Regions from separate parts of the Homo sapiens genome. Here regions 1, 3 and 4 are each linked to region 2. Evidence: fine-mapped expression QTL. A gene starts in region 2. Each other region holds a variant in brackets. All regions are shown on one strand. Distances are between the middles of the regions. Region 1 overlaps LRRC28 (leucine rich repeat containing 28). Region 2 holds the start of TTC23 (tetratricopeptide repeat domain 23). Region 3 has its middle 150 kb from the start of LINC02351. Region 4 overlaps LRRC28 (leucine rich repeat containing 28).

Region 1 (8,000 bases), 31 kb before region 2:
AATGCAAAGCCACACAAGGTGGACAGAAGAGTTGTGGGACTAAAGACAGCTGTCTCAAGAGAAGATTCTCAAAGACCAGGTGCCTACTTAACTGTGAAAAAGATATTTGTTGATGACATTAAAGAAGACACTGAAGAACATTACCTAAGATTATTTTGAACAGTATGGAAAAATTGAAGTGATTGAAATCATGACTGACTGAGGCAGTGACAAGAAAAGGGGCTTTGATTTTGTAACCTTTGATGACCATGACTTCGTGGATAAGACTGTCACTCAGAAATACCATAATGTGAATGGCCACAACTGTGAAGTCAGGAAAGCCCCATCAAAGCCAAGAGATGGCTAGTGCTTCATCCAGCCAAAGAGGCTGAAGTGATTCTGGAAATTTTGATGGTGGTCGTGGAGGTGGTTTTGATGGGAATGACAACTTTGGTCGTGGAGGAAACTTCAGCAGTCATGATGGGTTTGGTGGCAGCCATGGTGATGGTAGATATGGTGGCAGTGGGGATGGCTACAATGGATTTGGTAATGATGGAAGCAATTCTGGAAGTGGTGGAAGCTACAATGATTTTGACAATTGCAATAGTCAGTCTTCAAATTTTGAACCCATGAAGGGAGGACAATGGTGGCAGAAGCTCTGGCTCCTATGGGGGTGGAGTCCAATACTTGGCCAAACCATGAAACCAAAGTGGCTATGCCAGTTCCAGTAGCAGCAGCAGCTATGGCAGTGTCAGAAGATTTTAATTACTGCCAGGAAACAAAGCTTAGCAGGAAAGGAGAGCAAGAGAAGTGACAGGGAAGCTACAGGTTACAACAGTTTTGTGAACTCAGCCAAGCACAGTGGTGGCAGGGCCTACCTGCTACAAAGAAGACATGGTTTAGACAAATACTCATGTATATGGGCAAAAAACTCGAGGACTGTATTTGTGAATAACTGTATTATTTTAGTTTCTGTTCTGTGGAAAGTGTAAAGCAGTCCAACAAAGGGTTTTAATGTAGATTTTTTTTTTTGCACTCATGCTGTTGATTGCTAAATATAGTAGTGTGATCATGACGCTGAATAAATGTATCTTTAAAAAAAGATAACAGAGTGTTGCCAATCCTGACTGCACATTAGAATCACCAGGGGTCTTATTGGTACCCAAAACCATCCTGCAGCAAGTGAAACACCATCTCAACTCAAATAATCCTGATGTACAACCGATTAAGAACCATTACTGGTAAAGTGGATCAGAGAGCGGGCTCTGAAGCCACACTACCTGCACCTTAATAGCCATGTGACTATGGAGAAATCACTGAACTGCTCTCTCTCCTAATCTGTGATGTTGCAGGGACTAAATGAATTAATAAATGTAAAGCTCTTAGAACAGTGCTTGGCTCCTGGTAAGAGTTAAATGAATGCTCTTATTATTGTTATTATAGTTATTATGAGTCATTTGTAATCACAGGCTTAGGACTTTCAAATTTAAGTCACTTCCTTTTACTTAATTTTGGTAATTTCAGAGTAGTTGAAATGTTGATGTTTCAATGTTCTTATTAAAATAAAATGTTCCTCTTCTCAAATAATGCAGGAACTCTCATTCATTGTTGGTGGGGAATGTCACTTTGGGGTATACTCATTTTGGAAAATGGCTTGGCAGTTTTTTTTAAATGTTAAATATGATGTTTACTTAATAGGAATATTCCAGAGTCAGTTTCTTAGTTTTGACAAATGTACCATGGAATTCCTTTTTTTTTTTTTTTTTTTTGAGAAGGAGTCTCCCTCTGTCGTCCAGGCTAGAGTGCCGTGGCTCGATCTCTGCTCACTGCAACCTCTGCCTCCTGGGTACAAGTGATTCTCCTGCCTCAGCCTCCTGAGTAGCTGGGATTACAGGTGCGCACCACCACACCCGGCTAATTTTTTTTTGTATTTTCAGTAGAGATGGGGTTTCAGCATGTTGGTCCAGCTGGTCTCAAACTCCTGACCTCGTGATCCACCCACCTCGGCCTCCCAAAGTGCTGGGATTACAGGCATGAGCCACCATGCCTGGCCTGTACCATGGAATTCTAAGATGTTAACAACAGGACAAACTGGGTAAGGGGTACACCAGTATGACCCATACTATGTTTATAACTTTTCTATAAATATAAAATTGTTCCAAAATAAAAAAAGTTTTAAAAAATAATTTTTAGTTTGGGTGTGGTGGCTCACGCCTGTAATCCCAGCACTTTGGGAGGCCGAAGTGGGTGGATCACCTTAGGTGAGGAGTTTGAGACCAACCTGACCAACATGGAGAAACCTCGTCTCTACTAAAACTACAAAAATTAGCTGGGCATGGTGGCACATGCCTGTAATCCCAGCTACCTGGGAGGCTGAGGCAGAAGAATCTCTTGAACCCAGGAGGCGGAGGTTGCAGTGCACTGAGATGTTGCCACTGACTCCAGCCTGAGCGACAAGAGCGAAATTCCATCTCAAAAAAAAAAATTTTTAATTAAAGAAACAGGACTTCTACTTTCAGTCAGGATGAATAACAACAATGGAGTAAATGGGATTTTCCCAACTGTTCTAAACAACAAGAAAACCAGATGAAATACAGTCACATGCCACTTAATGACTGGGATATGTTCTAAGAAATGTGTCGTTAGGTGATTTCCTTGTTATGCAAACATCATAGGGTGTTCTTACACAAACCTAGATGGTATAGCCTACCACACACCTAGGTTACAAGGTGTAGTTGCTCTTAGGCTACAAATCTGGACAGTATGTTATCGTATTGAATACTGTAGACAACTGTAACACAATCAGACAACTGATACACGATGTATTTGTGTATCTAAACATATGTAAACATAGAAAAGGTACAGTAAAAACACAGTATTATAATCTTATGAGACCACCATTATGTATGTGGCCTGTCATTGACATAATTATGCTGTGCATGACTGTACATGAAACAATTATTTTCAGATATTAACAAAGGCAACTAGGACTACATTCCCTAAGAGAAAGGAAGTAAGCCACACAATCTCCCTAGCTTTCACCCTAGGGGCAAATTCTGGACTGTAGAACAGGAAGGAAATCCCAAAGTACAGAAGTCTTACTGAGTTATGGAGACACATATCAGAGTTCAGGGAACCTGAGGCAACTGGAAGTTGTGGGGTAAAGTTCTGAAGAAGAGAGAGCTACTGCTACAAAAAAAAAAAAAACCTCCAAAAATTTGCATAAGGAATCCCTTGGCCTCACTCATAGCTGAATTCTAGAACAAACACACATAAGAAAAACTCTAACAGGATACAGTGGGTCATGGGTCATACCTGTAACCCTAGCTACTTGGGAGGCTGAAGCAGGAGGATCACTTGAGGACAAGAATTCAAGACCAGCCTGAGCAATATAATGGGACCCCCATCTCAAAAAATAATAGAAGAAAAATAAAAGGTACTCCAGGCAAAAAGCACCTGAAAATCAATCAGCTGAACAGCCTGCAAAGCTCACAGTGTTGAGAGACATTCAAGTTCTGAGCAAGTATGCCAAATCCTTGTTGATCATTTGAGGTATTCAAGAGAGATCCTGGAAAGCTCATGCTTTAGTAATAGGGCTAACCTAACCACCTATCCTAACAAAGTATAAAAATAAGCCATAAAAGGATCAAAGTAAACTGCAAATAGCTGCATGCCAGAAAAAAGGGACACAATAAAATTTAGACTCTCAAAAATGCAAACTTTATAAGGTCCATCCAATCAAAAAGTATTAGACATGCCAAGAATCAGGAAAATATGACCCATAACCAGGAGAAAAATCAGTCAGTACAAATAGAACCAGTATGACACAGATGACAGAATTAGCAAACAGGACATTAAAATAGCTATAATAACTATATTCAGCTATTTAAATGAAAATATGAACATTATAAGAACTGTAAGATAAAGAAAAATAAACAGAACTTCCAAATATCATAAATACAGTAACAGGCTGGGCACAGTGGCTCACTCCCATAATCCCAGAGCTTTGGGAGGCTGAGGCAGGAGGATCACTTGAGCCCAGGAGTTTGATGTTACAGTGAGCCATGATTGCATCACAACACTCCAGTGTAACTCCTGGGTGACAATGTAAGACCCTGTCTCAAAAACACACACAGAAAGCCAGCCTGGGCAACACAGCAAATCCCCATGTCTATGAAAAAATTTAAAATTTAGCTGGGCATGGTGGTGCATGCCTGTACTTCTAGCTACTTGGGAGGCTGAGATGGGAGGATCCCTTGAGCCCAGGAGTTCAAGGCTGCAACGAGCTAGGATAGAGCCACTGCACTCCAGCCTGGGCGACAGAGCAAGACCCTGTCCCTTAAAAAAAAAAAAATACAGTAACCAAAGAGAAAACTTCACTGAGTGGGATTAGTATAGTACATTAGACACTGAAGAAGAAAATATTACTGACTTTTAACACAGAACATACAATTTGTCCAAACTGAAGCACATAGGGAATAAAAGTCTGAAAAGGAAATGAAAAGTCTTAGTGACTACGAGACAGTATTAAACAGT[C/G]TAACAAACAGGTAAGAGTTCCACAAGCAGGGGCCAGGAACAGGGTATATAAATAAATATCTGAAAAAACAATGTCAAAAGTTTTCCAAATTTGATAAAAACTGTTAAGACACAACCCCAAGAAACCCCATGAACCTCAAAGGTAAGAAAGAAGAAAACTACAACAAGATACACCTAAATCAAACCCTTAAAATTAGTGTAAAAAATGAAAACCCTTCAAAGTAGCCCAAGGGAGAAAAAGACACATACACACAAAGGAACAAATATAACAACTGTAGATGTTTCTTCAGAAACTATGCACGCCAGGGAATAATGAATATCATGAACGTGCTGATAACAACAACAACAAAAAAAATGGTCACTAAGAATTCTAATCCCAGAAAAAAATTTTAAAAATATAGGTGATAAATGTACAATAAAAAACTGTAAGACTTTGGGGTGGGGGCGGGGAAAGGAGAGAGTCTTTGGGACCTAGGGCTAGACACAGAGTTTTTAGACTTGCCATCAAAAGCATGACACATCAAAGCAAAAAATGATAAACTGGACCTCATCAAAATGTAAAACTTTTGCTCTGCAAAAGAACATAAACAGGATGAAAACACAAGCTATACACTGGGAGAGAATATTTGTAAACAACATATAGAACAGAAAACTAGTTTACAAAGAACTCTTAAAACTCAGAAATTAAAAAAAATACAATCAGAAGATGAGCAATAGACATGGACAGGCATTTCACCAAAAAAAGATGCCAATGACAAATTAGTATACAAAAGGATGTTCAATATCATTAGTCATTCTAGAAATACAAATGGAAATTCCAATGTCATAAAAACCACATATCTATCCAAATGACTAAAATAACAAAGACAACACCAAATGCTGGTAAGATGTGCGGACGCTGGAACAATCATACATTGCCAGGGGAAATGTAAAATGGAACAGCTAATCTGGTAAACCGGCAGTTTTTTACAAAACTAAAAATTTTGAGCAACAGTGGTAGAGTAAGAACCTCCAAAAATTCTCTTCCATAAAAACAATGAGAAACTGTCAGAAATGTCCAAATGCTACATGTTGAGAACTCTGGAAATGAACCTAAGGCTTACCATAATACAGGGAGAATTTATCCAAGAAAAAAATGACTGAGCGTCAGTAAGAACCGTGGGTTGTAGGCTTCATGGTATTTTCGCTTGCTCTAGTCCTAACCCCACTCTCCTGCTCTGCAGAAGCCTGAAAAACCAACAGTTCACAATCAAAGAGAAAAGCAGTAGCAAGGGGGTAGGACCACGTTAGAGTGCCTTCAAAGCTTCCTTCTCAGAGAACTGTCAAAGATTTGTCTCAAGGTTCCCTGGAAGACCCAGTTGCAAGGCTGTCTTTATTCCGTCTGAGTAGCAGATTGCCCAGGGCAAAAACCACTGTAAACTGAAACAAATTACAGGCAATTGTTTAACTTCACAGCTGCTTGAAACAGTTGTAACAAACAACTGACAAACCACAAACTGTAAAAGGAAAAGCTTTCAAAATGTGGAAACCACTCAAATGTCTATCAACTGATGAACAGATAAACAAAAAGTCATGTATCTATTCAACGGAATATTATTCAGCCATAAAAAGGAATTAATTCTGATACCTGCTACAACATGAATAAACCTTGAAAACATTATGCTATGTTAATGCAGCCAGATACAAAAGGTCACATATTGTCTCATTCCACTAATATAAAACATCCAGAAAAACGTGTATCCATAGAGACGGAAAGTACATTAGTGATTACCAGGGATTGTGGGAAAGTGTATACTCTCTCTTGCTCTTTGGCTTGCTTGCTCTGATGGAAGACAGTTGCTATGTTGTGAACTATCCTACAGAAAGGCCAAATGGCAAGGAAATGAGGGAAGTGCTCTAGCCAACATCAAGCAAGAAATGGAGTCCTTCAGTTCAACAGCCTACAAGGAATTGAACCTGACAACAACCACGTGAATAGAGGAAGATCCTTCTTCAGTTAAATCTTCAGATGAGACTGCAGTCCTGGCCAACAACCTTGACTGCAGCTTCGTAAGAGACCTGGAGGCAAAGGCACCCAGCTAAGTCAGGCACAGATTCTGGGGCCTCAGAAAATACAAGACACTGAATGTTTATTCTTTTAAATCACTACATTTGGGGGTAAGTTGTTAAGCAGCAATAGATAATTAAAAAGGTGAATATTTGCTTAACACAATAGACTACAGACACTTTAACTGTAAAGCCAGCATCTTTCTTAATGGGGAAACCCTAGAGGCATTCCCAGCAAGATCAGAAAGAAGACAAGGGACCAGGTGCAGTGGCTCACGCCTGTAATCCCAGCACTTTGGGAGGCCAAGGCAGGTGGATCACAAGGTCAGGAGTTTGAAGCCAGCCTGGCCAAGATGGTGAAACCCCGTCTCTACTAAAAATACAAAAATTAGCCAGGCGTGGTGGCGGATGCCTGTAATCCCAGCTACTAGGAGGCTGAGGCAGGAGAATTGCTTGAACCTGGGAGGCAGAGGTTGCAGTGAGCCAAGATTGTGCCACTGCACTCCAGCCTGGGTGACAAGAGTGAAATTCGGTCTTAAAAAATTTTTTTTTAAAAAAGAAAGAAGACAAGGATGTCCACTCTCTCCAGGACACTTTCACATTGTCTAGAGGAACGAGCCAATGCAATAAGACTAAAGAAAGTAATTAAAGGGATAACAGCTGGAAAAGAATAAGTAACACTATCTGTATTTTCCAACATAAGAGTATACCTGGAAAACTCTATAGAGAATCTATCATGAAAACTAATTGAAACAATAAAGATTTCAGCAAGATACCAGGATATAAAGTTAACACGCAAAAATCAATATTGTTCATATATACAAAATACAACCAGTTAGAAGATATAACATGACAAAATTCATTTACGATAGTAAAAAAAGATTAAATACTTAGTAACAGACTTTAGAAATCTTCAAAACCTATTTTAAAGAAAACTATAAAGTACCTAAAGGATGCAAAAGTAGACTAAAAAGATGGAAAGACATCTTTGTTCCTAGAAATACATACTTATTTAGAGACAAAGAAAAAGCCATGATGTGCATAACTCACAAAAGCTTCAGAAAATAATAAATACACATATACATACATACAAAAGGATGAAAGCAAAAACTTGATAAAGCAAGTTTTGGGGTCAAACACCACAAAAAATGTTTAAATCAATCTAATCAAGAGCAAATAATACAGTAAATTCAGACATCTACTTTTAAAATACATTATTTTTGAAAACTTGCATAATTTAAACATGAACTGTGTATTAAATTATATTGAATATTACTTTCCTTAGGTGTGATAATGACATTATGTCTGTAATTTACCTTCAAATCATTCAGCTTGGGGGAGGGGGCAGAGGGGTAGGAGACAGGTAGAAAAGGGAAAGAGAAAGCAAATGTTGCAAAATGTCAAAATTGGTTAAATTTAGGTGAAGGGTTTACGGGTGT
Region 2 (8,133 bases):
CATAGGTAATTATTCACTGAACTAGGAAACTGTTAGCAGTTTAGATGTCTCACAACCATCTCAAACTTAACACATTCAAAGAGCTTTCCATTTTCATCATCAATCCGAATCTCCACAGTTTTTCCCATCTCAGTAAATGGCTCACCCCTCCATCCACCCAGTGGCTCAAGCCGGAGAAGCAGGAAGTCATGAATGATTCCATCCTTTCATATTCTGACCACCTCCAATCTATCACAAGGCTAGTGGCCTCTATCTCCCAAATACATCTCAAATCCATCCAAATCTCTCCATCTGCCAAAACCACAAGCCACAGTCATCTCCTGCCTGGCCAACAGTATTACCAGTCTCCCTGTGTCCACTCTAGTCACTTCCAACACATTAATCCCAGCAATGGGCCTTTAAAAATGTACATCCAATTACATCTCACTCTTTTCGGTACACATCTTACTAAATAAACCCTTCAGAAACTTCTTACTTAGAAAATCAACTCATACTAGGCCTTGAGGGTGCCTCACCATCTGCCCCCACCCACTTCTCCAGCAACTCTGCTTGGCTTCTCACCAAGCTTCTGGGCTTTTCCAATCCTCAAAGCTACTAAACCCCTAACAGCACTTGCTGGTCTCCTCTTAGCCTAGAAAGCAATGTCCCATCATTCTCCAGATTTCAACATAAAAATTACTTCCTGAGACCGGGCGCAGTGGCTCACGCCTGTAATCCTAGCACTTTGGGAGGCCGAGGAGGGTGGATCACCTGAGGTGAGGAGTTCGAGACCAGCCTGGCCAACTTGGCGAAACCCCATCTCTACTAAAAATACAAAAATTAGCTGGGTTTGGTGGCGGGCGCCTGTAATCCCAGCTACTCGGGAGACTGAGGCAGGAGAATCTCTTGAAACCGGGAGGCGGAGCTTGCAGTAAACCGAGATCGCACCACTGCACTCCAACCTGAGCGACAGAGCGAGACTCAGTCTTAAAAAAAAAAAAATCACTTCCCTATCCCAAAGTAATTCCCCTGGTGTTCTTTCAGAGGAACTTGGCTGTTTGTTTTTTCTTCGTAGGACTCCTCACAATTTGTCACTTAAATATTTATCGTTGCATCTGTCTATTGTCAATAAAGCCAAAAAGCCTGTAAATAAACCCTTCCGAAACTTATTTAGAAATCCTGAGGGCAGGGACTGCGTTGTTTTCTTCACGCTTGCATACCTGCATCTAGCACAGTAACTAAAAGTAACCCTTCCTAAAACCTAGGTGATGGGTTGACAGGTGCAGCAAATCACCATGGCACACGTTTACCTATGTAACAAACCGGCATATTCTGCACATGTATCCAGGGACTTAAAATTTTAAAGTAGGCCTTCTAATATCTGATGACATGTGGAAGAACATTGCAAGGTTGATTTTTCATCCAACTATGTCAAGACCACGGATAGAGCCTATAAGCTTGCTACATGCCACAAGGATGTCTAATCTTTACAACCATGCACTGCAATAGACATTATGTAGCCCGTTTTGTAGAGGAGGAAACTGAGTTTCTCAGAGGGTAACATGCCATAGTTCCATCGCAGGTGGACTGACTACAAAGCGTGTGCACCGCCGCCCTATAATGCAAAACCACACTCACTGAAGGAAGATTCAATAAGACAGTCCCTGTAACCTGACGGCTTTCCTTCTGAATGTTCTGGCTGGGATTGGCTGCCTCAAAAACACCATTACACTCTGTTAAAATTGCTACAAAGGCTGTTTGGGAGATAAAATCTAAACAAATGAAATCCTAAAACTGCCAATAATAGCAATAAAGCATCAACAATGCTCACAGTTTTGCAGTATGCATTCACGGGCCATACACAGCCTTTAACAAGGTAATTTTCTTACCCCATTTCACTTGACTACATCTTACCTAGTTAAGCAAACTACCTCTTGTATAGTTATACTACCTCTTATGTAGTTAAGGCAAATAGTATTACTTAATATCAGCTGTATACAGCTGCACTTACACACGAGCTTTCTGACAGGTGAACACCAATCTATCTTATTATTAAAAACAAAACAAAAAAATCAAAAACCTCTCAACAAAATTCCACACATATTAAGGAGTATTTTGAAAGGAAGGAGTCCCTTATACTGACCTCCCCGTACTCAATTTAGTAGAATACGCATTCCAATTTCCTAACGCTGGAGATTAGAGAACTATAAGCTACATATTAAAAGCATTTGTAAAAGGCTATTTTCTCAGCTGTGGTAACAAACACTGGCAGAGTCTTAGGCAAAACACACGCCGTTTCGCCCGAGTTAGCCAGCCACTGAGATCGTTACAGTTGGGAAGCAGCGAGCCCAGCAGCAGGGATTTCACGGACCCGGTATCAGGGTTCTCGGGTCCCAGGGGCCGCGGGCCGCAGAGTGGGAGGAGGACCCGGCAGCTGTGGCCACCCGAGGCCCGGACGGCTCCGCTGTCCCACTCGCCGCGACCCGGACGCTTTGGCAGGACCACGTCTGGGGCGTCCCCGCCGGGGGGCCGGGTCAGAGAGCCTCGCCACTTGAATCACCCGACGAGGCGGACAGCTCTACTCACCTCAGCGCCAGCAGAGCCAGCGCTCCGGAGCGCAAGCGGCGCTGGAAGCCAAGCGGGGGACGGCGGGCGGGGCGGGGCAGGGAGCCAGGCGAGGGCGGGGCGGAGCGCCGGGCGTCGGGGGCGGGGCTCCGGGGGTGGAGCGGAACCCGCGCCAGAGGGAGCTGGGGAAGAGGGAGCGGGAGAGGAGCACGGAACCTCGCGATAATCCCCTGTGTTCTCGCGCTTTCACGATAGGCGCGGGAAAATGCTCGTTTGCCAAGCGATCTGTGTATTGGCCGAGAGCGCTACTTCCTCTATGCTGGCCCCGCCCGCGGCTCTACTCTTGCTTCCGGCTCCGGCGTGGGGTTTGATGTCGACGGAGTGGCTTTTGCTTAGCGTCTTGAAGGGGTAATTTAGTCGGCTCCAACTTCGGGAACCGCCAGTTACTGACCTGTTCCTTCATTCATACATTCATTCAGTCACTCGGCTTCTCATTCAGAGCACACGTTGAGGGATTACAACAATGATCCCACGTTGAGCGTTCGTTCTAAGAGCTGTTTATAGATTATCTCGTTGAACCCTTGACAGCAATCCCATGACACAGGGACTAACAGCGCCAGTCTGACCGTTGAAAAACAGGCCAGTGGGTTTATGTAACGAAGCCAACGTTATTTAGCAAGTAGTGAGTCTAAGCACCGGATTTAAGGGGTCACTACGAACTGGTAGATAACAAAGATGAGGAGGACGTAACCTAGTCTCTGCCCTTCAAACACCCAAGGTTTATTTTGAGTAAAGATTGCTAAAAAGGTCAGGAACAATTTAGAGAGTTAAATACAATGACACTTCCTAGCCTGACTGAGTAGGCCGTCAATATGTATTTCTTCAAGACGAAAATTATTATGTCAGCGAAATAGCATGAAAGAGGGCTTTATGCTGTTAAAAATACTTGGAAGCATAGTTCGGAAACATTTTTAAAAGACACTTTTTAAAGTGTCTCATTAATATGACAAATTTCCTTCTGAAATGAAGATTTTAAAGTATAATCCTCTACTACAACCGCTGATATTTTTTGTTCTGTGGAAAGCCTGTCTATGAGTTTGCGAGGCTCCTTGTCAAGGAACTTTAACTTTATAATGAAGTAGTTTTTACAGTTGCTGACTTAATTATTCATAGAGACGAATAACCTAGAAAGCAGAGTTATATTAAATAAAAAACATTGGTTTTAAAACAAGGTATGAGTTATAATAAAAATTATCAGTTATCTATTAAATCTGGTCTTCAAGAGCTATTCAGGTATACAGCATGGTTGGTATATGTCATGTATTTCTAAGATAGTTTCGGAATACCTAAGAATTCGTGGCACTCAGAAATTTTTTGCTGGTCTTAAAATGAGGAAATCCACATTTTGTGTAAAAACAAAGATACGGTGTTTAATGGTCAGCCCAAATAATAAGACTTGCTGCTAATATATGAAGAGTTACACCCCCCAAAAAAGAAAAAAGATTAACAGTAGAACAGTTTTTTGAAAACAATGTTAGCCTCTTAGTTTTCATTTCTTTTTTTTAATGGGGAATACTGTTTTTCAGTGATTAATATCTGATATTTGATCATGAAAAATGAATCATGTTAAAATAACCTTCACCTCCTCCCCACATTGACACAAAAGTTACCAAGTGATTATATTTGATAATACTTTATGACCCCACTCTTGAAGTTCTCACAATTTGTAGAGAATCAATTCGCACGTTTTGTCTCTCTTAAAGGGGAAAAAAATCCTCTAAGCTGGTGATTTCACGTTCTTTGACAAACTTCAATATCAACAGGCAACGATACCACTTTAAGAAAATTCCAAGGAAAAGACCTCATTTTAAAATTCCCACCTCTGGCTCCCAAAGATTGGTTTGCAAACTTCGACAAAATACTCTTCTCCACTCGCTATTGGTGAGTGCTCTATCATTCATTCTTTTGCCTGGAGTTTTGTGAGGTACCCGCTTGCTTTATGGGAAAAGGCTGCTCCGGAACTGCCCTACTTTAGACTTTTTCATGGTTATCAATCTGTACAAAGAATCACCAAACTGATAAAGCAGGAACCAGAGGGCAAATCACGCTGCCAAGACAACTGTGTAATTCGCTCGAAAAAGAAACGGTGAGCCTCTCCAGCAGACTGGGTAAACTGGCAAGGGATTTTACGACATAGTTGGAGATTGGAGAGTTACAGAAACTTTTCCGGTTTTTTACAAGTTTTAAAGGAGTGATTGAGTGTCAAAGGAAAAGCAGAGAAAATACAGGCACAATTTAAAGACAGCAGGAAGAAGAGTGTTCAGAGAGCATTTTTCTCTTTAGGGTGAAGTTTGAAAGCATCATGCCCAGATTATCAGTGGATTTTTGAAAGGTAAAGGAGGCAAGATAATAAGATTAACTATAGATCATTTTCTACTTTAAGAAACTGTGCTTCGTTATTGTTGCTTAAGTGTGGATTTAGAAGGACATTTAGTAATATTGTAATTTTTATATGGATATTTTTGTTTATATATTGTCATACCTGGCATAATAGATAATATATCTATTAAAAGATATAGGAGAAAATAGAGTTGCTTGAACCCAAATTTTGTGTATATTTGTGGATTAGGGATTCCAGGGACAGATCTGCTAATGGCTGAACAAAACATACTACAGATACCTGAAGCAGAATCAGCATGTAAGGGTAAATTCTCAAAAAAATCCAGCAATCATATTTCAAAAATGACATTTTTAATTAAAACAAATACAAAAGAATTTATCAAGGAAACGTTGATGAACATGACTATTTCTTAAGTTGCCTGTGTTAATCCATATAGGGGAATATAAAGTAATAAAATCCAGCCCCTCAAGAGCAGGGACAAATGAGGCTCAGAACATTTAAACTAAAACTTCTGAACAGTTCTTAATGCCCGGATGACTGTTGTAGAGCACAGGTGCTTCAGGAGCTCAGCTCAATGTGAGATGAATTATTCAGAGAAGGCTTCACAGTATGGGTAAGACTCAATTTGGGCCTGAGCAATGGGCAGAATTTCAGAGAGAAAAATAAGGGAAGTGGCATCCCTACTAGTGAGTGAGTTGTTAGCAAATACATGCAGCCTGAGGAAGAGTTGGTTCTGACTGCGGCAGAAGGTTCATTTGGAAACTTTGGTTACAAATTTTAAAAAGCAGCATGAGAAATATAAAGAGCCGGAATTCCCAAAATCAGGGGTTTGGGTCCTGTGTTTGGAACAGGAGGCACCCCTTATGAAAGTAATATTTGAAGACAATAAAACTGACAGTGGAATTTAAGATGGCTAGACCAGAGCAGAGACCAGAAGCTAAGGGGCCCCATGCTGTGTAAATACTGGCACACAGGTTAGTAACCATGCTTCTTACCCGAATACATTTACCTTATCATTGTTGAATAATATAAATTTTGATGCACTTCTTTGTAGTCTTCGAAAGCATTGAGTTTACTTCTTTAAGATTTTTGGGGACCGCTGCCACACTGTCTTGGGGAGTCATGGTTGCCCCGTCTTTATAAAAGTCTTGTCATAATATGTATAAAAACCAGAATTACACATAAAACTGCGTTGTGGTTTCATAGCTATTTTTAACAGCTTTAATGAAGTATAATTTATATATTATAAAGTTCATTTGTCTTAAGGATATAACTCAATGATTGTTTTAGAAAATCACAACCATCACCACATTCCAATTTTAGAAAATTTTCATCATCCTAGAAAATTTAGAAAATTTTCATCATCCTAGAAAATTTAGAAAATTTTCATCATCCTAGAAAATTTAGAAAATTTTCATCATCCTAAAAAAATACTTTGTGCCCATTTGCAGGCAAGTCCTGGTTTCCTATCCCCAGCCCCAATCACTAAAAAACTTTCTGTCTATAAATTTACCTTTTCTGGGCATGTAAGTGGAATTACACATTATGCGATCCTTTGCATCTAGTTTCTTTTACTTAGCATAATGTTTTTGAGGTTCATCCATGTTGTAGTATGTCTCATTACTTCATTCCTTTTTATTGCTAAGTAATAATCCACATTTTATTTAACAGTACCAATTAACAGACATTTGGATTTCTTCTAGTATTTAAATATAGTGTTTAATTGTACTAATTGTAATTGTATTACAGTAAATACAGTACAGTATTTAGCATTATGAATAATGCTGCTATGAAGATGGGTACAAGTTTTTGTATGAACGTGTGTTTTCAGTTTTCTTGGGTGTATATCTACGAGTGGAATTACTGTCATATGGTAACTCTGGGTGTAACTTTTCAAGGTGTTGCACAACTGCTTTCCAAGGTGAATTTCCCATTTTACATTTCCACCAGAGTGTATGAGGGTTCCAATTTGTCCACATCCTCACCAACACTCCTTATGATCTGTCTTATTCATTGTAGTCATTCAGCTGGATTTTAAGTGGTATCTTATTACAGCTTTCATTTGCATTTTCCTGATGACTGACGATATGAAGCATCTTTTCATGTGCTTGTTGACTATCCATATATCTTCTTTTGTAAAATGTCTTTCAAATATTTTGCCTATTTTTTTAATTGAGTTGTCATCTTGTTACTGATTGTTTTTTGGTTTTTTTGGTTTTTGTTTGTTTGTTTGTTTGTTTGAGACTGGGTCTCGCTTTGTCGCTCAGGCTGGAGTGCAGAGTGCCACGATCTCGGCCCACTGCAATGTCCACCTTCCGGGTTCAAGCAATTCTTCTGCCTCAGCCTCCCGAGTAGCTAGGATTACAGGTGCCCACGACCACGCCCAGCTAATTTTTTGTATTTTTAGTAGAGACGGGGCTTCACCATGTTGGCCAGGCAGGTCTCGAACTCCTGAACTCGTGATCCACCTGCCTTGGCCTCCCAAAGTGCTGGGATTACAGGCATGAGCCATCGCGCCAGCCCATGTTAATAAATTTTTTTTTTTTTGACACGGAGTGTCACTCTGTCACCCGGGCTGGAGTACAGTGGCTCGATCTCAGCTCACTGCAACCTCTGCCTCCTAGGTTCAAGCGATTCTCCTGCCTCAGCCTCCTGAGTAGCTGGGATTACAGGTGCCCACTACTATGCCCAGCTAATTTTTTGTATTTTTAGTAGAGACAGGGTTTCACCATGTTGGCCAGGCTGGTCTTGAACTCTTGACCTCGTGATTTGCCCACCTCGGCCTCCCAAAGTGCTGGGATTACAGGCGTGAGCCACCACGCCCAGCCCCATGTTACTGATTTTTAATTGTTCTTTATATATTGTGGTTAAAGTCCTTTATCAGATTAATGATTTACAAATATTGTCTCCCATTCTGTGGGTTGTCTTTTAACTTTAATAATAGTGTCTTTTGAAGCAGTAAAGATTTGGATTTGATGAAATCTAATTTATCTTTTTTTTTCTTTTATCACTTATGCTTTTGGTGTTATATCTCAGAAGTCTTTGCCTAACAGGCTGGGCCCTGTGACTCACACCTGTAATCCCAGTATTTTGGGAGGCCAAGTCGGGTGGATCACCTCAGGTCAGGAGCTCGAGAACAGCCTGGCCAACAGGGTGAAACCCCGTCTCTACTAAAATTAGCTGGGCGT
Region 3 (8,144 bases), 970 kb after region 2:
TACATATGTATACATGTGCCATGCTGGTGTGCCGTACCCATTAACTCGTCATTTAACATTAGGTGTATCTCCTAATGCTATCCCTCCCCCCACCCCCACCCCACAACAGGACCCGGTGTGTGATGTTCCCCTTCCTGTGTCCATGTGTTCTCATTGTTCAATTCCCACCTATGGGTGAGAACACGCGGTGTTTGGTTTTTTGTCCTTTCGATAGTTTGCTGAGAATGACGGTTTCCAGCTTCATCCATGTCCCTACAAAGGACACGAACTCATCATTTTTTATGGCTGCATAGTATTCCATGGTGTATATGTGCCACATTTGCTTAATCCAGTTTATCATTGTTGGACATTTGGGTTGGTTCCAAGTCTTTGCTATCGTGAATAGAGCTGCAATAAACATACATGTGCATGTGTCTTTATAGCAGCATGATTTATAATCCTTTGGGTATATACCCAGTAATGGGATGGCTGGGTCAAATGGTATTTCTAGTTCTAGATCCCTGAGGAATCGCCACACTGACTTCCACAATGGTTGAACAAGTTTACAGTCCCACCAACAGTATAAAAGTGTTCCTATTTCTCCACATCCTCTCCAGCACCTGTTGTTTCCTGACTTTTTAATGATCGCCATTCTAACTGGTGTGAGACAGTATCATTGTGGTTTTGATTTGTATTTCTCTGATGGCCAGTGATGATGAGCATTTTTTCATGTGTCTTTTGGCTACATAAATGTCTTCTTCTGAGAAGAGTCTGTTCATATCCTTTGCCCACTTTTTGATGGGGTTGTTTGTTTTTTTCTTGTAAATTTGTTTGAGTTCATTGTAGATTCCTTTGTCAGATGAGTAGATTGCAAAAATTTTCTCCCTTTCTGTAGGTTGCCTGTTCACTCTGATGGTGGTTTCTTTTGCTGTGCAGAAGCTCTTTAGGTTAATTAGCTTTATTAATGCATCTCAAGACCATTTTGATTTCTTTGGCAGCTACATCACACTAACCATCAGTGTTGATTTCTAGTCACTATTAATCGGGTCCTATGATGTGCTGGGCACGAGGGATAGCACGGTGGGCAAGACAGATGTGGCCCTTACCTGCAGAGAGTTCACAGTGTGATGAGGAAGATCCACTTGGATGGAGGAATCACTGTGTTAGGAAAGGTGAGGCCAGACATTGATGGGATTATATTAATACATAGGCTATGGGCTCATATCTAGTTCTGTTGTGGGGAGAAGCCCCCTGAGGAAGAAGCATTGAAGTCGAGCCCTATAGGCTGCACAGTTGCTCACCAGGTAGAGCAGGAGTGGGAAGGGGGTGTGGCAAGTGCACCTAGAGAGGGAACAGCACACCCAAAACCCGAAGGCGAGGAAGGGCGTGGTGTGCCAGTGAATGACTGGATGTCCTGGATAGGAGGGACTGGATGAGAGAGCAAGGCCAGAGGAGGTTAGGAGGAGGCCAGATGCTGGAGCCGGCCTGGTCTTGAGAGGGCCTGTGAATCGTGGCCAGGGTTCTGCCTTGCACTGTTGCCAAGCCCTTTTAAGTAGGAAATGGCATGATGAGGTTTTCTGTTCACTTCAGAACCCGAGTCTTTTTGATGCATCCTCTTTGTAAGAAATCACATTCCTCCTCCAATTCCCTTCCTAGGATTGAGCCCTGACTTCTACATGCAAGTGAAGAGCTGTATGTTCATCCACATTTTAGACTCATTGTGTGCGATTATGACAATCTCTATGGACACTCACATTTGGATTCTGATTCTATCCCCCGATATATTTATCTATCTCCCAGCTCCACTCAGTTTTGCTAAGTCTCTTCTGGCTCATTCCAGGTTGATGGGGGTTTACAGCTGGATAGAACCCGATGGCGCTTCCCTACAAACTGTCCTCCTGGCTGCCGTAGAGCCATTCATGGGCTCACGTGGGTTCCTGTTCGACCTCCCTTGCCTCCACCTAATTGTAGCGACCTCAGCCTGCCTGTCTTCTTCTTGCCACCATCTGGGAGGCTGCAGAGGCAGCCATATCCATTGGCCGTGGGGCCATTCCAGAGCTTGCCTTGGCAGTGTGCTGTGCTGCTCCTGGAGGTGGTGCCTTGTCTCCACTCTAGAACTGCCTACGTCTCATCTGAGTCAGGCTGACAAAAACAGAGTGTCACAGACTGGGCGGCTTACAAACAACAAACATTTATTTCTCTCAGTTCTGGAAGCTGGAAGTCTGAGATCAGGGTGCTGCTGGCATGGTCAGGTTCTGGGGAGGGCTCCCTGTCTTCCAGGATGCAGATTGCTGTCTTCTTCTGGTATCCTCACATGATGGCAAAATGAGAGAGCTCTCTGGTGTCCCTTTTGTAAGGGCACTAACCCATCACGATGGCTCTACTGTTGTGGTCTAATCCCCACTCAATGGCCCCACCTTCTAGTACCATCACCTTGGGGGTTAGGATTTCAGCATATGAATTTGGGGGTGGGCGCAAACATTCAGCCCACTGCAGATCCCCTGCACAGTCGTTTTTTGAGGCACTTAAGAGAAAGATGATTTCCCATAATTTCCTATCTGACTCTTCGCTGAGGATGAAATAGGCCCAGATGACACCACGGTTGCTACCGTTCGGAATGTGGAGGAAACTTTTAGTGTGAATGCCTGTGAAACTTAGGAAACCTCCCAAGAGGACTCGGCCTGAGTTTGGAAACCCTTCTAAAGGGGGTTTTGCTTTGTAAAACGCTGACTCAGTTGACAGATGGCCCAAATGCTTATTTTGGTCAACACCTGAAAGCAATTTGGGGCTTTCTAATTATTACTCCAGAAAATAGACTAAATCCCACTCAACAAATGTGGAGCTGGCCAGTATGGGGCCCCCACGTGCTAATGCACTGGAGGCTGGTTCTGTTATCAACTGTGAGTCCCTCTTGAGTTCCAGTTCCTGGTGGGGCTCCAGGTCTGTCCTGGTTCCATTCAGAACTCCAGCTTTCATCAGCCTATCTGATGTGTCCACTGAACCTCTTTCAGTCTCCTGTGTTGTCACCTCTAGTGCAAATCTGGGCTTGCTTCTGGGGCTCCGCCATGGCAGTAGGAGGGCTTTTGGACAGATTGAACCTGGCTCCGTCCCAGGCAGGACACAGCTCCCTTGGCAAGTACAGCAGAAGTATCTGTTCCTGTTAAGACATAAGCTCCACTCACCTCCCTTTACTGCCTCATCACACTTTGTCCTGGTTGCATCAGGACTGTGGCTCTTCCATCCTTTTGTGCCTGGTTTAAGCCAGCTACAAATTTCTGGATTGCAACCACCAATTAGCATGCTTTATTGTTAACAACCATAGTAATGGCACAACTAATTTTATGGATTACACAGAAATAATGATCAAGGCAGCCTATTTTAGTGAAAATGGGTAATTGTATAAAGCCATGAAGACACGGCCTTATGATGGTTGAAAATTCAAAGCAAGCACCACTTGGATGGTGCGGTGTTGAACCAGCTAATTATAGTGGTTTTATATCCGTGTTTGATCATTTAAAAAAGGTTTCTCTCTCCACACACACACACACACACACACACACACACACGC[A/GCA]CGCGCACGCACACACAAAACCCTATCAAACAAGTTTCTCTTTGAGTTTACAATTACTGTTGTGGGCAGGGAGGTTTCTGAATCACAAATGAAAATTTGAACATCAAAGAGATTTTCTCCCCTTCTTCTAAGGGAAGAAGAGCTTTTTCTTTCCAACTATATAAGAAGGGAAAAAATACATAGATTTGAAATTAAAATTTCGCCAGGGCGGTAAGAGAGTAGAAAACACCAAATTCCTACGTGTGGGCAGGTTTGAATGTTGCTCTGATGAGATATAAATGCAGCCTTAAGAAAGAGACATAAAGAGAGAGAGAGCACTCCTAGTTTTAAAGTCCAGGTCCAGGACTATGGCACCCTTTCTTTCTGAGCAGACCACACTCAGAGGCTAATGTATCATCAACTGTCTGATAAAGAGAAAGGGTAAGGGATATCCCAAAACCAATGAACTCTGAGCTTGCCTGAAAGTTTATCCTGTAGAGGAGGATTGATAAAAAGTAACTTTTAAGAATGACAACAGTCTTTGATAAACAAAAATATATTAAGTTTATGTAAAAGCGTTTGGCTTTGAATGGATCATCAATTTTGAAAAGGATAGTATCATCACAAATGGAGGAAATATGTCCACTTTATTAATTAGTAAAAACAATAACTGTGTTCTCAATGTGTATCTTTGAAATGTGTCATTTTGGCAATCCTTTTTCACAGACTGTGCTGTACTTTTCTTTTTTGTTTTGTTCCTTAGTTTTTTTGTGATTCAATGAATGCCAACAGCTGACATAGAATAATCTATAGCTTATAAAGTTCTCTCACACATTGTTTTGTTTGGATCTTACAACAATCTTATAAGATAGTGAGATGTTAGCTCCCACATTGTCAAAGAAGAATCTAGCTAACTAAGGAAAATCTGCAAATGACATCATGGTTAAGACTGGGACAAAGCAAGGTGTTTGTTCTCATCCCTCCTATTTAAGACAAGGAGGAGTCATTAATAACTATGTATGGAGTTTCTGCAGAATGCCAGGAACTGTGCTGCATGCTTTTTATTATGGTGTTTTGTTTAATCCTCCCTATAATGCCTCATGTAGAGACTCTTTCCCCTGTTTCACAGATGAGGAAACAACAGCTCAGAGATGTTGTGCCTTTGTCCAGAGTTGCACTGTGACTTTGGATGATGGCTGGAGGATCCAAAAGAGAAATGCTGTTCACTGACTTGCACAAACTGCTCTGTGCTTGTGTTAGAAATTCAGATACCAACACAACACTAATCACAATAGCAAACACATGGAACCAACCTGGGTGTCCATCAGTGGTGGACTGGATAAAGAAAAGATGGTACATATACACGACGGAATACTCTGCAGCCATAAAAAAGAATGATATCATGTCCTTTGCAGCAACATGGATGCAACTGGAGGCCACTACCCTAAGTGAGTTAACATGGACACAGAGAACCAAATATTGCATGTTCTCACTTGCAAGTGGGAGCTAAGCATCGGGTACACATGGACATAAAGATGGGAACAATAGACACTGGGATCTTCAAAAGGGGGAAGAAAGGGAGGTGGGGATTGAAAAACCACCTATTGGGGACTATGTTCACAATTTGGATGATGAGTTTAATAGAAGCCCAAACCTCAGCATCATGCAATATATCCATGTAACAAACCTACCTGTGTATCCCTTGAATCTAAAATAAAACAAATAAATACATTAAAAAAAAAAAAGAAAACAAATTCAGATACAGAGAGGACCATAACAGCCTGTATCTGAAGGTGGTAGGCCGGAATGTGACTCCGAGCGTGCTGGGTCTCCTTGTTCCTTTCCACTTATCAGTAGTAGACCAGACTGTTGGTAGGTCTTTTAAGTTTTCATAAATTTTGAGTCCTGCATGCTAAAAAGCTATTTGTTTTATAGAAACAAATAATAAAAATACAAGAAAAATAAAAAAAGAAAGAAAGAAGAAATAAAAGAAAAGAGAATTTCTTCCCTTTCCAGTGAAAAACAAATTCCAATTGGAAAGTTAAAAAAAATCAGATGCAGGCCAGGCGCAGTGGCTCACACCTGTAATCCCAGCACTTTGGGAGGCCAAGGCAGGTGGATCACGAGGTCTGGAGATCAAGACCATCCTGGCTAACATGGTGAAACCCCGTCTCTACTAAAAAACAAAAAATTAGCCAGGCGTGGTGGCGGGCGCCTGTAGTCCCAGCTACTCAGGAGGCTGAGGCAGGAGAATGGCGTGAACCTGGGAGGCGGAGCTTGCAGTGAGCCGAGATCGCGCCACTGCACTCCAGCCTGGGTGACAGAGTGAGACTCTGTCTCAAAAAAAAATAAAAAAAAAATAAAAAAATAAAAAAAATCAGATGCAGCATTGCTATTTTAATGCCCTTTAATGCCCTTTAAATCTCTAAGGTCACTTTAATAGATTGTCTGCTGTTTCTCATGAAAATATGTTGCCCATTAAGTTAAATAGACTAGGATAGTTTAGTCAAGTGAGGTTTCACATGTAATGATTGAATTTTCATTTTCTGAGGTTGTAAATTAAATTTACAACACTGGCATAAAGTTGAGAGCCGAAGACTCCATCCAAAGTTGGACTAAAACAAAGGTACTGTGATATATTTGCAGGGCTGGGTGTGTTCCTCTGTGTGCCACTGTTTTATCATGAGTCAGGAAATCCCACGGGGATACCCCCCCAGCCAGCCTAGCTTCACTCTCCATCCACCTGGGTTGCTCTTTATCCGCCCACCCCACGATGCCTGGAGTAGGGGGGGAAGAAGAGAGAAGATAGGGTATGTGGGGAAGGTGTCTACCTGCTGCCAGCACCATTTCCATACGTACCTCCCTGTGACCACAAGGGGGTCAGGTGTGGAGAAAAGAAGTGTATCCTACCCAGAGTGCTCAGGTAGAAATGTCCCTGCATAAAGAAGCTCAATGGTTAAAGATTTTCCACTAGGTCAGGCCAAGGGAGCAGAAATGTATTATTCACATATTATGTGTGAATAATATTCACATATGTAATTCCAGCCGACTGGAAAGGTTTGTACTAAGAGAAAGTGAGTCTGTTTGATGTACATGAAATTTTGCGACTCCCAACACCTTCTAGGAATTAATATTTCTGAGGTTTTTTTTTTGGTAAATTAACTGGCTACTTATTATTTCATTTTATTATCTGCTCTTGTTAGCAAAAAATGCATTAGCATCTGTCAAATGCTTAAGAACATTTTCTAGAGACAAGCATTGCGTCTAAAAGATTATTAAGGTTTTGGAGGTGGCAAAAATAATCGGGCAATAAAGCTGTTCACAGTCTCGTACGTGTATATGTGTATTTCCCTCTTTCCTTTCAATTTCTGGTTATATTATTATTATCATTATATAATAAACTATAACAGTCTAGCATGAAAACAATTATAAAATAGTCATATGAAAAATGCAGAGATCATTCTATTGGAAAGAGGATGTCCTTCTACAATGATGAACATCTAGTTATTATTATTATGACAATCCCTAGAGATGATTGAACTGTTTCTTGTCCCTCTGATCCAGCCCATTAGTGATTGCTCACTTCAAAATCAAAGTGTTGAGAAACATTCCAGTCTGTGAAATTAAGTGATCGAAAGATTTAGGGGATCGCTCTTTTCACTTTTTCTTTGGATGTGTAAGAATATGTTAAGGGGTATACTTGGATATTTCATCAAACTTCAAAAATGAATATTTTGATTTTAATAAGAAAACCAAAAGTTGCTATTTATTTATGAAATATATTCCGTTCACTTTCCCAGAAGACCAGATCACTTTATCCCATCTAGTCTTGCTCTGATAAACGTTGTGGAGAAAAGGTCTTCTCTTCTCTGGTGGAGGTGCGGTGAGTGTCATCTCACTCACACATGCTAAGCCAGAGATGAGTCAGGGAAGTGTGAGGGAAACGAAGTGTGTTGTTTTACACACGGCGCTGACCACAGAGCAATATTTTTCAATTGAATATATGATATTAATATTGTTCCTAACAATAGCACTTATTCCATCCAGTCAATGCCAGTTCCGCTTTTTTAAATGAACTCATGCTCCTATAATTGCTAATGATAACAGCATATCAAGTACCATTTACTGGCTATTTTCTTCTGAGCATTTAATATGTGCTAAAGACTTTACACACATCATGTCATCTTATCCTCACAACAATTCTCCCAACTATATACAGTTCACAAATCAGGAAAAGAGGTAAAAGGTAAAAATAACTTGCTCAATTTAACACAGTGGCAGACCCAAATTCAGGCCTCTCTGTCTCTAATGCTTTACACTTAATCATACTTTACTACCCATGGCAAAGTGTCTCTCCCTTTTCTATAATGAGAAAAGGTTAGTCAATTCATCTTTTTAAAATTTATTTTTATATTTGATTTTTTAAAAATATCAAGGGTTGGGTAGTTACTTTCCTAACACAGCTGCTGAAATGGAAGGACGTGGCTGAAGCCCAGGGTCCCTTTGTGCTTTTCTAGGGATGAGGAAACGTCAACCTTCACTCAGTTTCACGTCTCTAAGGCCCAAGGGCAGGGCCTCCTCTCTCAGAGTCCTGGGTGCTGTCCCAGAGTGCTCCTGC
Region 4 (8,127 bases), 140 kb before region 2:
CAATCCGGTAAAATAAAGACAGTCTTGCAAATGAGGTCTTCCAGGGACCTGCCTGCCAGGTCAAATAATGACAATTCTCTGGGAATGAGGCTTTGAAGGAGTTCTAACCCCATTCTGCCCCCTCTAGTGGCTTCCAGGCTGCTACTTTTCACCTTCATTGTATACTGTTGGTTTTCAAGGATACAACAGAGACGGAAGGGGGAGATAGGAATAGGGCAAGTTAAAACACCACAAAACTCGTTGTTCGTATCGAGATTCAGCCATTTCTCTTGAATAAATACTCCACCATTGACATTCTGAGCATTCACATGGTTCAAGCTCAATTATTCTATAAACTGCAGTAACTGAGAGAGGCAACCAAATTGGATAAAGTATGAGTTTTTAGCCACACTCCAAATGAATGTTGCCATAATTTTTCAGAGGCCTGGATTTCATTATGTATCTATTTTAAAAATCTTGGATCATTTAGACTCAAAAATCACAATAAGAAACAAAACCTGATATTCTTTAACACAGGTAGCAAAGATAATCCACACTTGAGTGGAAAAAAGTCTGGCTAACCCTTGAAAGTCTCTTAATTACATACAGAAATAATCTCCGAATGCTACACCTTCTGCCCATCCACCACACTCGCTGCCAGTACCTTCTGTCTCCAAAGTACAAGGGGACCACACATACAGTCATACTTCAAAGGCTGTGAAGCAAGCTCTTTTCCTGACCGAGAGAATGTCAGTCACTTGGCTATGATCAATTCCTTTCCTAGAGACACCGGCATCACTTTCAGATCTATTAGCTGATGACACAAGGAGGTAGCTCCTCACTGTAGGCACAGTGAAACTTGAATGATTTTTTTTTGAGACGGAGTCTCGCTCTGTTGCCCAGGCTGGAGTGTAATGGCGTGATCTCAGCTCAATGCAACCTCTTCCTGCCGGGTTCAAGCAATTCTCCTGCCTCAGCCTCCCGAGTAGCTGGGACTGCAGGTGCGCGCCACCACGCCTGGCTAATTTTTTGTATTTTTAGTAGAGATGGGGTTTCACCATGCTGGCCAGGCTGGTCTCAAACTCCTGACCTCAGATGATCTGCCCTCCTCGGCCTCCCAAAGTGCTGGGATTATAGGCATGAGCCACTGCCGAGACTTGATTTTTAGATAGACATAGAGCTAGTTTCAAAAATACAAACTTTATAAAAACCCCCTTTGTTTGAAGAAAAGGCAAGATATTCACTGAGTTTCTGGGAAATGTAGGAGAACCTCAATAGAAGCAAGCAGGAGTGAATGAAAACCACAAAAATGAAGGCATAATAAAACAGGCAGGGTAATGTAAGGATCCATTTAAAGAAGAGTCTTAAAGAGAGTGTGTTTATGAGTCTGTGAAATGAATTTACATCTCAAATTTTATCAGGTTGCAACATTAGTGTTGGTCCAGTTAGAAATCCATGTTCATAAATCATCTTAATAAAAATGTTTTTATTTATGCTGAGGCAATGTATTGTGTTTAAGTACTTTATAGCAAAGATTAGAATTTCTGATTTTTCATTCAGGAAAGGGAAAAACCTTTACTACTACTAATTTTAAAAATTGGCTTTGAAAGTCCCCACAGACTACAAAATAGTTACATATTTTAGAGAAAATTATATGCAGAGCCTCATAAGCCAACTGGTATTGAAGCCTTTTTTTCCCCCTAGACTGTAAAGATTTTAATTCGTAATGCTCAACGTAAAACAGAAGTGAGAGGTACATTACACTAGTCGGACAAGCTGGAATGTGAAAGGTCTTAGTGAGGCACGGTGACCAAAAGATGTTTAATGTACACCTCACTTTTCCAGAAGAGAAGGGTCAGGTAACAAAGAAGTTCATCACTCTTATCCGTTAGCCAGAGTGGATCCTCCACCCAAGCCAGGGTTCTTTTGAATAGGGATCATTTAATTATTATGTATTTTAAGAATGTGCTCAAAACATGTATTAACTGAAGATGCAGCATTTCATCCACACAATGTTATGTAATTAAGGTTTTTGGTATGATAACAATTGGACATACTGAAGAACACTGATAGGGTAATCCACTAAAATCGGCCCCCTTTGCACTACTTCATAGGAAGGCCTATGCTCATGAGGCTATCCTGGACTTTAAAACTTATCGCTAACCACACAAGAGTTCACTGAAGTAAACTTACCTGAACAGAGATGATACTTTCCAAGTAGCTCACTTTTTTTGCATTACTATTATTGTGTGAATACTTTTCTACCTAGTGTAACTGTTGCTCAAGAAAACAACATATATAATAACTTCAGATTTGCTTTTCTGCAAAGCTTTGGACACAATTCAAATATATAGCATGTAGGCAAATTTTCTCCAGTTGGTAAGACTCCTTTATAGTATCAAAAGATTAAGAATGACATCGATAAATCCAGCATAAAATTTCCATAATGAACAGCACCAGGGAAACCACTTAAGTTCCACTTCTCATCAATTAAGTTCAGGTGCTGTACCCAAGGATTAAGGTTGAGACTGCCCAAAGGTTGTCTGCCCAGCCCACTGCTGTTGTTTAACACACCGTAGTTCATAATAGGTAGAGAAAGAATGCCTGGATTGTAAGCATTTTTGTAAAATTTCAAACAAGGTAAAACTAATGTATCACCTTATCACAATGAGAATCCTGAATACCAAGTTAGCACATTTCATAGCTCCATTCCATGACATATGATTGTAGAGGATGAAATAGAAAAATGTAGCAAGACATTTACTGTCACTTAAATCATAGGTAGCAGTCACTTAGGCCTGAAGCACAATTGTGAAGTTTCATGCCACATTTTCACCAGCTAACTTATATACATGTAGAGGTTATGTTAAACTTCAATTATTCCAAAGGATGAAAGTGTTACATTTTGATACAGATCTTCAGTTCCTATTTTACTATAAGCCTTTGAAATGTTAAGGCTGAATAGACCAAGATATGAAAAGGGACAAGAGGAAGTAAGAACAGTGCAGATACAGTGGGAACACACGGTAACTTTCTGCCTTCTCCATTCTACGTGGACGGTGTGCTTTCCGGGCAGCAGGTGTTGTGACTGTAAAAAGATCACACATTTGTCAGTAACTATGTAGGATTTTTGGCACTGTTAAGAGCGTAGCATTATAAAGTCAGGGCAGCTAATAAAAATTCCCTCAACCAAATTTTTGATAAGTCTGAAATTAAAAAAAAATAATTTTTCTACCAAGCAAATTCTTGGTTCTCCATTCAGCCCTGCCTTTTAGAAAACTTACATCATTAAAAAACATTTTAAAAAAAGAATCACTTCACAGCAAGCAGATGAACATCTGGCAGCAAAGCAACATTAAAATGCCATCCTTTGAAAGGAAGAGCAAATACGTGACTTCTTCATGAAGAGTTCTTTCTGGCAGGGTGGAGGCTCACAGACTTTCTGTTTATGGACTTTTGCAGAAGTCGAAGGCTGAATTTGGACCTGCTTTTCCTGTATTTTCTCAGTTGCATCTGGGCAGTAAGCTAAGTATACAAGAAACGAGGGCCAACATGAAGACAGTGTGGTGCACCAGGTGACGAAGTAAATGTGCACGGGCTGTACTTTGAATCATCCTGTTAAAAACCAGTAGTGGGCCGGGCGCGGTGGCTCACGCCTGTAATCCCAGCACTTTGGGAGGCCGAGGCGTGCGGATCACGAGGTCAGGAGATCGAGACCATCCCGGCTAACACGGTGAAACCCCGTCTCTACTAAAAATACAAAAAATTAGCCGGGCGTGGTGGCGGGCGCCTGTGGTCCCAGCTACTTGGGAGGCTGAGGCAGGAGAATGGCGTGAACCCGGGAGGCGGAGCTTGCAGTGAGCCGAGATCCCGCCACTGCACTCCAGCCTGGGCGACAGAGCGAGACTCCGTCTCAACAACAACAAAAAAAAACCAGTAGTGGAAGTAGCTGAAGCCTTTCACATGTGACAAAAATATTTCAAAGTCAGTATAAACTGAATCATAAACCCATCAAAAAAGAACACGGAGGTCTTATTTCAATGTGTGTTTTCTCCCCCTTTCTCATTGTATGGAAACTTTATATTGAGAAAGAAAAAAATCAGATCTTGTAAAGCTTCAAATATTCCTCAAATTCTTCTCATATAAAAAAAATCTTATCAGGAAATTTAAAAACTTCAAAAATCATTTTTCTGCAAACACTTTTAAAAAACAGGAAGTGTATTTCATTACAATCTACATTTTTGTTTTTAAAATCCCTCACAAAAGTCTGTTGCTACACTGTAGAACGTATAAACAAGGCTGGAACTTTCCAGAGGGTGTGTGCTCTGGGACCCTCACTGAGCCTCCATGGGAGCCTCACTTTGCTGCCAACTCAGGCGCCCCACCCTGCTACTCAAGACCATTGAGGCCACGGGGTTTGCTGAAACTCCTCAAAAACTGACAAGTTTCCACTGGAGACACTGTGGAGAACATGGTCTCAGGGAAATAACTCTCTGGGGAAAGCAAGGGAGGGGAGAGGAGAGGAAGCATCACTGAAGGTATGTGTGTTCAAAAGGGAATCTGGCTAGATGATCAAGTCACTGTTCTCCAAGGACCGGAAACTTGCTTTAAATTAGATTTGGGGAGGCCCA[T/A]CAATCTAAATGGTTTCTGTAAAAGACACACTCACATAAAAAGGAAAAACACAGAAGACAAATGGGTCCTTAATTTGGGGGAGGATATATTCCAACTTGGGGGAAGGGTGAAGGCATTTTAGCTCTGAAGCTCAATCATGACATTTCTAGAGAGTTCTGCAGTGCCCCCGCATTGGACAGGACAGGATGGAAGAGTGTGCTGGACTGGCTGGATTCCCCAGTGTCAAGCTGGCAGCGCTCCTGAGGTTCTTGAGTGTTTATCAACTCAGCAGGTCAAAAGTCTGCAGACACTGGGTGGAGCAGCAGTAAGCCACAAAACTAACAGTTGTCTTCCTGGAAGGGGAAAAAGGGAGAGAAGAACGCTGTGAGTTCAAGATTAAAGTCTCTGATTCTTTCTGCTGGAAACTTTTTTCTTTGTTAAAATGGAGGATTAGCCATGGTCAACAAACTGCATAATAGAAATTTAAATTTCCTTTTCAAACTGAGCACTGGAATCAGGTGAAGTATGTACATGTGAATGTTCATTTTATTTATTTATTTTTTGAATGTTCATTTTAATAGCAGCGTTCAGAAGATATATTATCCCTAAAGTAGAAACTAAGAAAAAAAAAAAAAACAAATGCCTTTTCCACATTACGTTTCGAACTCTGCTTTCTAGAACCAACAACGCAATCACAGAATTGAAGTCCATTATAAAAATCATGTAACAGAAAATGTCTCCAATTTAGCCAGAACACATATATACCACAGAGCTTAAACAACATAATTTTAAGGAATTTATCCTACAAATGTACGCATACACATAGGTTGCTCGTAGAGGTCATTTCAGAATCTGAATAATACAGTTCAAAGGTCTTCCCACATATCAGAGGTTTGGGCACCTTTGTGCGTGAGTCATGAGCCCCAGGGGGCCTCTGACCCACTCTGGACAGCTCCAGCTATTAGATGCCTTGTTTTCCTGCCAGAAGTGCTATCCTCTGGTAGAGGGAGAAGACTCTCTTGTTGTTTCCACAAGACCCCCTGTGCTGATTGTTTTCTATTTCCTCACCCCCAACACAGTCCGCCTTTCCCTGTGGCCCAGGAAGGGGACCTCTGTAGACTTTACCAGCAAAGTTGCCTCAACTCTAGCTTCTGGTTAGGCCAGCGAGAGGCACCAGCAGGAGGCACCAGCAGGGGGCTGAAGGGCAGGAAGAAGGAAGGTTGAGTATTTCCACCCCACTCCCTCTCTACCTCTGGGACTGGAGCTCCTATCAGGCAGGCCCCCTTTGCTACCTCTGGTTCTCGCCAGGCTCCAGAGAGAGCTCCCTTTGCCCTTCAGGCCCAAGGATTAAGCATGGTAAGGGCTTCCTACTGCTGTGAGTCCCTGCGTGCCTCAGTATCCTTCTGGGTGCTCTCCACCCTGCCCAAACTTCAGCCAATTGTCCTTCTTCATTAATTTCTCTTCAAAGTCTCAGCCAAATGTGCATTTTGTTTTCCAGCCCTGATGAATACAGTATGTGTTATGAGAAGTGGCCCAACGAAGCAGCTCATCCAAGTGAGATTCTGAAGTTGGGCTGGCGAGTACACGAATGGCTTTCTTACTAGAGAGAAGTGGGACCCTGCTAATCTGTAGCATGTGGTGGCATCATGGTTACTCAAATATCACTGGAACAGAAGGTAACAGGAGGGAAAGGCATTGGGAAAGCAAGTGGCTGTGGCACTTGACTGCTATGGCATCACGGTGATTCCAAGTTTGTGGGGTGAGATGGCTTCTTTTGACTGTGCTGAAGAGATTCTGAAACGAAAACAATAAGCTTAGTGCCTTGAGATCTCAACTCAAGGCATGGACAGAGAATCAGAAAGTTTTTATGGTGGCCTTAAGTGAATCCTTATTTTATGAAGCTGCAAGGGACATGGCTGAGGCTAAATGTAGAGGTTTCAGGATCACATGCCAGATAAAGATATATTTATGCTAAGTCTCTTATGCTAAGGTAAAAGGTGCTGTTGAGAAAGAGTGGGAACTTGAGACTTGATATGGGAGCCTCTAGACAGGCACAAATCTAAGAGCCTTGACTCCCTAGCATCTCTAAACATTTCTTCATATCAGAAACAGACCTTTCCACCTTCTACGAAAACTAGCATTCCCTTGGGTAAAAATGTTTCAATGGCTTCCCCTGGGGTGGTTACCTAAAAACTTTTCAGGACCCACCACCATCAATACTCATCGCCTCTAGGGCCAAAAAGGGTAAAATCCTAGCATGATCCAGAGATCATTGAAAGGTCTACTCCTGGAGGAAATCACATACACGCTGATGGAGTTGCAGGATCTTGTCAAATTATATTAGCAGGAACCTGGAGGGCACGCATGGAAACGGATTCTAAGTACATTGGCCAGCAAGAATGAATGTAAGATTGGATCAGGCCAACAGGGGTACTTCACCTATACCTCAGAATATGATACATTAAGCACCTGGGAATGGTTAACAGAAGCCTTGACTCATTGCAGGCCAACAGCTAATGAGACAGCTATGCTAGACTCCCCTTGCAGATTCTAGAGGGAGGATAAATGGGAATGCAGAGAGGACCCAGGGTGGCGGACCCTGCTCAGCCACCTCCTGAAAATCTCCAGGAGGGCCAAGAAGTCTTTTTCTTCCCTAAGCCTAAATGTATTTGCAAGGGGGAATACAAACTGGAAGTAGCAAGCACCCTTGATGCCTTCATAGATATACGATTATCAGAGGTGAGAGAGAAAAATCCTGCAAGAGTTCATATGCCTACTACATCAGTGCAGTTTCAAATGGAAAAGAAGAGTTGTATCCAGAACTGCCCACTACAGAGAAACAGACACACACTTGGTGGATCCCTCTGGATTTTGGGGGAAAATATATTTAGGTGGAACTTCTGGTTCTGCCAAGATGGGGTAGGCCCCATTCTTCCCAGGTCTTCCCCCCTCCACCTGAAACACTCTGGACAAAATACAACAAATAAGCACAGGCAAGCTTTGAAAGGGAGAACCAAGGCAGACAGCCTAGGGACAGTGGGACTTGAGGAACAACGCAGTGCTGGCACGTTCCCTGGGTACCTTATTGCCCTCTATATCTTAAATAGGATGCTGTAGAAGCCTCCAATCCAGAATCAGTAACAGGCACAGATGCAATTGGCTCCAAGTAAAGCCCATGCCCCCAAGCCAAAGGCCAGAGACAGGAAAATCTACAGAGACAGAAAGTAGATAAGCCTAGGGCTAGGTATGATGGGGACAGAGGGACAGGGGCAAGAGCTAAATGTTCAGGGTTTCCGTATGGGTGAGAAAATGTTCTGAAATGGATTAGGGTGAGGGTTGCGCATATCGCTGAATGTACTAAGAAACACTGAGTTGTATACTTTAAATGGGTGAAATTGTATGATACGTGAATTATCTCAATAAAGCTGTTAAGAAATAAGAGAGATGAAAGGAGAAATAGATAAATCCAAAAATAGAATTGGGGACTTCAATACCTTACTCTCAGCAACTGATATACTAGATAGAAAATTAGTATAA

The links.
Region 1: its variant is fine-mapped to the expression of TTC23 in monocytes (TOPMed, PIP above 0.99).
Region 3: its variant is fine-mapped to the expression of TTC23 in iPS cells (HipSci, PIP 0.95).
Region 4: its variant is fine-mapped to the expression of TTC23 in esophagus mucosa (GTEx, PIP 0.98).

Annotation. Positions count from the first base shown.
Region 1 is chr15:99,277,364-99,285,363 of GRCh38, reverse strand. The region is part of intron 3 of LRRC28 (leucine rich repeat containing 28); the gene reads right to left. It also overlaps the pseudogene HNRNPA1P62. Among named protein-coding and RNA genes, the nearest start is that of LRRC28, 30 kb to the right of the region's middle. The variant C/G (reference allele first, on the strand shown) is at 4,516.
Region 2 is chr15:99,245,974-99,254,106 of GRCh38, reverse strand. TTC23 (tetratricopeptide repeat domain 23) reads left to right here and starts at 4,526. Exons shown (of 14, transcript NM_001288615.3): 1 at 4,526-4,936. It overlaps LRRC28 (leucine rich repeat containing 28), which reads right to left and starts at 2,626. Exons shown (of 10, transcript NM_144598.5): 1 at 2,566-2,626. RefSeq lists a silencer at 2,312-2,851 and an enhancer at 3,102-3,151.
Region 3 is chr15:98,271,017-98,279,160 of GRCh38, reverse strand. No RefSeq gene overlaps it. Among named protein-coding and RNA genes, the nearest start is that of LINC02351, 150 kb to the left of the region's middle. The variant A/GCA (reference allele first, on the strand shown) is at 3,548.
Region 4 is chr15:99,382,846-99,390,972 of GRCh38, reverse strand. It overlaps LRRC28 (leucine rich repeat containing 28), which reads right to left. Exons shown (of 10, transcript NM_144598.5): 10 at 244-4,943. The coding sequence ends at 4,871. Among named protein-coding and RNA genes, the nearest start is that of LINC02244, 16 kb to the left of the region's middle. The variant T/A (reference allele first, on the strand shown) is at 4,611.